Linked DNA regions of Homo sapiens: region 2 is reported to be linked to region 1. Evidence: microRNA targets listed by miRTarBase, many of them from high-throughput screens and not tested one by one. Region 1 holds a microRNA gene; the other region holds the end of a gene's coding sequence. Distances are between the middles of the regions.
The links. The annotated mature microRNA hsa-miR-4272 reads CAUUCAACUAGUGAUUGU and lies in region 1 at 1,914-1,931, shown strand. An mRNA with a match to its seed (bases 2 to 7 or 8) in the 3' UTR can be bound and repressed. Matches are read on the target gene's strand: a 7mer-m8 pairs with bases 2 to 8, a 7mer-A1 pairs with bases 2 to 7 and ends in A, and an 8mer does both.

Region 1 (3,538 bases):
AAACCCACTCTTAAGTCTCTAACCAACACAGATAAAAATACATTCCCATGTAAAGATTTGTATGTGAACAGTCAAAGAAACATTATTTACCAAAAAGTGGAGACAACTCTGATGTCAGCCAACTGGTGAATGGTTAGACAAAATGTAATCTACTTATACCACACAATCAATGAAGGAATAAGGAAGAATGAAGTAATAATACATGTTACAACAAGGATGAACCTCAAAAACATCATGCTAATAAAAAAATCAGGCATGAAGACCACATATTATATAATTTCATTTATATGAAATGTCCAGAAAAGGCAAATCTGTGGAGAAATAAAGTAGATTGGTGGTTGCCTGGGGCTGATGGTGAGAACTGAGATTAATTGCATATGAGTTCAGTAGATGTTTTGAGGATAATGAAAAGTGTTCTAAATCTGGATTGTGGTAATGGTGGCAAAATTACAGACACACTAAAAATTATTTACTTGTACACATAAAATGTATAATAAGATAGATGGATTTACGATATGTAATTTACACCCAATAAAGCAGTTTTAAAAAAATTGCCAATACCCAGGTATATTAGGGTTCTCCAGAGAGAGAGAACCAATAGCGTATATGTATACATAAAAGGGAGTTTATTAGGAACAATTGGCTCCCATGATTACAAGGCGAAGTCCTACAATAGGTGGTCTGCAACCTGGGGAAAGAGAAGCTGATAGTGGCTCAGTCCAAGTCTGAAAGCCTCAAAACCAAGGAAGCCGAGAATGCAGCCCTTAGTCTGCGGGTGAAGGCCTGAAAGCCCTTGGGGTGGACACTGGTGCAAGTCCCAGAGTCCGAAGGCTGAAGAACTTGGAGTCTGATATCGAATGGCAGGGGGAACAGAAGCAAGGATCCAGTACCGGAAAGGAAAAAGAGCCAGAAGACTCAGAAAGCAAGCTTATCCCACATTTTCCTGCCTATTTTGACCTAGGTATGCTGGCAGCCCAAGAGAATGGCACCCACCCACATGCGGTGAGTCTTCCTCTCCCGCTCCACCAATTCTAATGTCAACCTGCTCCAGGAACAACCTCACAGACGCACCCAGAAACAATACTTCACCAGCCATCTAGGCATCCCTCAACCCAGTCAGGTTGACACCTAATGTTAACTATCATGCCAGGATTCTCCCATTCAAATTAGACAAATATTGCTGGAGTAAAGTCAGGCATCAGTCATTTTTAAAGTTCCTCAGGTTCTGTTATGCACAGACCAGGTTGAGAACTACAGCCTATCACCATACTATTCAAAATACGCTCCAAGGACCAGCAGCATCTGTATCCACCTGCGCCCTGATTAGAAATGCAGAATCTCAGGCCCTATCCCAGGCCTACTGAATCAGAATATACATTTAAATAAGATCCTCACATGATCTAGATGCCAATTAAAATTTAAGAATCACTGCTGTATTACTTCGTATTTATCATAATCTTTTTAAATTTTTTTTTTACTTCTTTGCTGTCTACCACTAGGAACACGTGGTACAACTCCACAAAGAATGCAAAGTGAATAGTGCTTCAATCAAAATTCTGAGAAGGCAGGGTCCCTGAACACTACTTCTTCTTTATGCCTAGCAGAATTCCTGTCACAAAGCTGGTACTAAATTACACAATTGTTGAATAAATAAATAATTGTCACCCTCCACTCCATTTCCTTTTTTTAACCGTTAGACTCCTAGGAATAGTCAAGACCTAGATGAAAAGTCTCCTTTGCCAACTCCCAGGGCAGAGTCAGTTCCCATCTCTGTGACCCTGCTGGTCATCAGGACAGCACTAGCAGTATCAGGAATCCTCCTCCCATAGAAAGGGCACCATTAACCAACGGAGTTGTGTTATCCAAAGGGCTGGATCTTTTCTGCACAAATTAATCAGTTAATGCATAGAAAGCATTCAACTAGTGATTGTGTTATAAGAGATCTGCTCAATATTACTGTGTGTCTACCTTATGGGGACACATTGGTAAACAAAAACTGTCATGGACCGTGTCCTATCTGGGACTTATAATTCACTGTGGGAAATGGAGAGTAACCACTCAAAGATGTTGGCCATCTTAGCATGTTATCAAATGCCAGTCTTCTCATTTCTGAGAAGGTCTTTCATCCACCAAGTCTTTGTGTAGTTTTGCTTTTTGTGTGCTTCCTGATAATGCAAGGCATAATCTCAGCATGTAATTTACACAGCCTCCCTACTGCATGGAGACTGACTCTCCCAAGGCAGATGCTGAGAGGAGGATTCTAGTGTAAATCGTTTATTTGGAAGGTCTCAGGAAATACCAAGAGGGGCATAGGCAAGTGAGATAGAAAAGGAACAAAGCAAATTTTAAAAATGTGTTATTAAGTCAGATATTGCCTTAGAAACCTGGAGCTTGACCTCACCGGGGAACTACAGGAAGACTGTGTGGACCACACTTCAGAGAGTGGTCCTGCTTGAGGGCCAGAGAAGCTAGAGGATTTTCTACTACCTTCCCTATCTGTTATTAGCTGAAGGCTGCTTCCAGAACCATCAGCTCTCTAGCACTTTAGATTTGCTAAGAGTGATTCCTTGTTTGGAAGGGGAGTGAGGTGAGGAAGAGAGAATTGCAGGTGTTTAAAATAAACAGCCTTCCACAGGCTGCATGCCAAAGACATATTCTCTGAGAAGTTCAAGGAATATTGGCGGGGGGCAGTGGGGAGGGAAATAACAGACATTCAACCCCGAATGGACAAGGGACAACACTTCTTAATGGCTCAAAGAGGCTAACCTTGGAGAAGTGAGGTATTCAGGTCCAGAAAGTTTCTGGTGAATCACAGAAAAACAACTTTGTTTCCAAGAGGCCAAGTCAGTAGCTGGTAGCATGGAGAAAAAGCAAACTGAATGAAATGGAAATGACATTTCATTTGCCTTGCCATCCATTCTGCTGGCCACCTACAGTCCCTCCGAGGAAACACCCAGTGACCACTGGCTCAGACCTTTGCTCTTAGGCTAATGTTGCAACTTTATGGATATAGCCCCAAATATTATTGGGGGTATGTGCTTGTAGATGTGTAATGTTTAGGGGAGGGACTTTGGGGACCCATTGAAAGTCTAGGACCCAACCCACTGATGTGCAGTTACTAAGCAGAGCTGAAGGATCGAAGTCAGCCAAGCTGTCCACTCATTTCAATGTGGCAATCTTCCCAGTTAAGGTCTATGGTGGCAAATCAAATATTCTATTACATTATTTTTCAATTTCAGGCATTTCCCTGGCTGGACTCTTAAGTGGTATATTTTCCAAAGTTCTGAAACATTGTCCTGCTCACCATCTGCCTTGATGGGCTGACATATTGGACACCGAGTCTGGGACCAAAACATGTGTGACCCAAGGACACCATTTTGTCACAGGCTTATAGTGCCTGAGGAATGATGGAAACATGGAGATCTCAACCCAGCTGAACCAAACACCATGGATCCATACAAATGGCTTCTCTAGCATTGCTGGTATTTATTCAGCATTTATTAGGTGAATGTAGGTTAGCTTTACCTAAAAATTTTTA
Region 2 (3,000 bases), 110 Mb from region 1:
AAAATAAAATGGACAAAAAGGCCAGGCACGCCTAAAGTACCTGCACTTTGAGAGGCCAAGGTGAGCGGATCACTTGAGCACAGGAGTTCAAGACCAGCCTGGGCAACATGGTGAAACCCAGTCGCTACAAAAAATACAAAAAAATTAGCTGAGCATGGTGGCACTCGCCTTTGGTCCTAGCTATTTGGGTCATCCTGAGGTGGAATGATCACTTGAGCCCAGGATGTGGAAGCCCAGATCACCTCCAGACTGGGTGACCCCAATTCAAAAAAAAAAAAAATTTAAAAAAAGGGCCAGAGATCTGTATAGACATTTCTCAAAGGAAGACATATGAATGGCCATTAGATATGTGAAAAAATGCTCAACCATAATTAGGGAAATGTAAACCAATACCACATTAAGATATCTCACCCCAGTTAAAATGTTCATTTGAAAAAAAAGAAAAAATAACAAATGCTTGTGAGGATGTGGAGAAAGGGGAACGCTCATCCACCATTGGTAGGAATGTACAGTAGTACAACCACTATGAAGAACACCATGAAGGTTCCTCAAGAAACTACACATAGAATTATCATACAATCCAGCAATCCCTTTGCAACCTGTGTCCATCAACAGATAAATGGATATAGAAAATGTGGTATGTATGGACAATATTATGAAAAAGAATGGGATTCTGTCATTTGTAGCAACATGGATGGAACTGGAGGTCATTAATGTAAGTGAAATAAGCCAAGCCTAGAAAGACAAATATTGAATGTTCTCACTCATATGTGGGAGATTAAAAAATGGGTCTCATGGAGGCAGAGTAGAAAGGTGGTTACAAGGCTGGGAAGGGAAGGGGAGAGTAGGAAATTCAGAAAAGTTAGTTAATGGTTACAAGAATACATTTAGATACAAGGAATAAGTTCTAGTATTTGATAGTACAGTAGGTAAATTATAGTTAACAATAACATATAATAATATACTTATATATACTTCTAACTTGCTATATCTTATTTTGAAATATATAACTATATTTTGAAATATATGTATATTCAAATACCCTGATTTGACCATTATACTTTGCATACATGTATCAAAATAGCACATTACAAGTACATTATCAATAAAAATAATAAAGTTATTTGTTGAATGAATGGCCTGTGGCTTTTCAATTCACTTGTGTGTTTAGGCAGCAAAAAATTATTTCTCCATTTGGCCTTAAGTGGAGACCCACTGGCCTGAATCTTAGGAAGCCTGGGTTCATTTTTATTTTTATGAAGAATGTAAAACATACTTCTAAGATGAGATGCATTGATAAGCTGTTACAGGTTTGAAAATCCTGAATGTTTATGGTAAAAAGCCATTTTGGAAGTTGAAGTGTAAATGTTTTAAATGTTTATTTTTGTAAATACTGAGTTTGTGTTTAACATCTGAGCCTCAGGTACTAAATACTACCTCTTGTCATTTTGAAAATAATGTTGGGTGCAGTGGCTCAGGCCTGTAATCAGCACTTTGGGAAGTGGAGACAGGCCAATCACCTGAGGTCAGAAGTTCAAGACCAGCCTGGCCAACACAGCGAAACAGTCTTTACTGAAAAATACAAAAATTAGCCGGGTGTGGTGGTGGGTGCCTGTAATCCCAGCTACTTGGGAGGCTGAGACAAGAATTGCTTGAACCCGGGAGGCGGAGGTTGCAGCCGAGATCACGGCACTGCACTCTAGCCTGGGTGACAGTGCAAGATTTCGTCAAAAAAAAAAAAAAAAAAAAAGAAAAGAAAATAATGTTAAAAAATGCAGTTATTTAATATAGTGTCTAGCAGACAATAAATGCTTAATAAATGAGTCATTTTTAGCTTTTACTCACATTTTATAATCTCTGCAGGAATCACATTACCTAGTGCAACTACTTCCCCAAAAAAGGACTCTAAGGGATCCCAGAGATTGCATCTAGGAAAAGAGCGTGTGTGTGTGTGTGTGTGTGTGTGTGTGTGTACGTGTCTGTGTGTCTGTGTGTAGTTTAAAAAAGAACAATACATGGCAAAAAAAAAAACCATGAAAGCATTATAAACTTTAAAATTTGTTTACTGAGAATCTGTTTATTAAGGAGTTAACATTTTAGAGTTGGTTCAATACTTTATGGAACTTAAAATCCTGAGTTGCCCCTCAATAATACAGACATCTACAGTACAGGCATTTGTACAAAATACTATAATTACTGGTGCTTAACATTATTAGACTTCTATAACTTCCATTTGTCAGGTAAATAAAACACTAACCTTTCAAAGTTGCTACAATTTTAGGAGTTCACAAATTCCTATTTCTCCAGTTTTTATTAGTACATTTTAAACCTTCTTTGGGGACTGGAAGCCAAACTCCTCAAACAAAAGCCTCAATCTGAACCAACACTGAGAGACAGTAATGTCAGAGGCTCTTTTGTTTTTCACGGAGAGCAAAAATACAGAATATATTTATTAATTTATTTTCCAATAAAGAGAATATACTTTGTATTTGGAGAAAAAAATGCTTAATTGTCAGGAGTTGCTTTCGGAGAATGATCAATAAGTTCCTTGTCAATTGTCTCATAGTAATACCAGGGTCCATCTCCTCTCACATGCATCAATTTTCGCACTTCCAGCTCCTTTACCCTGTAACAAATGGAACAGCAATATTGAGATTCCAGCACTTCCAATTATAAATTTAATGAGCCATTTCCATAAAGGACAATCACTGGAGTCTGCTTTTATGTAAAGTATAATGCTCCTCCACAGACCCTTATGTAGGCATACATCTGGTATATATCTATAACCAAAATTTGGGACTTATTTTTGACTTTTATTATGTTGCTTATATAGATAGCTATCAAACAGTTTTTTTGTTGTTTTTGTTTTTTTGAGACGGAGTCTTGCACGGTTGCCCAGGTCAGAGTGCTATGGCGCAGTCTCAGCTCACTGCAACTTCTACCTCCCAGGCTCAAGTGATCCTCCTGCCTCAGCCTCCCAAGTAGCTGGGACTACAGGGG

Region 2: miRTarBase lists NDUFB5 as a target of hsa-miR-4272. Seed matches in the 3' UTR shown: 7mer-A1 at 1,032-1,038.

Annotation. Positions count from the first base shown.
Region 1 is chr3:67,223,587-67,227,124 of GRCh38, forward strand. MIR4272 (microRNA 4272) reads left to right here and starts at 1,878; the gene lies at 1,878-1,941.
Region 2 is chr3:179,623,546-179,626,545 of GRCh38, reverse strand. It overlaps NDUFB5 (NADH:ubiquinone oxidoreductase subunit B5), which reads right to left. Exons shown (of 6, transcript NM_002492.4): 6 at 1-2,626. The coding sequence ends at 2,506. Among named protein-coding and RNA genes, the nearest start is that of NDUFB5, 20 kb to the right of the region's middle.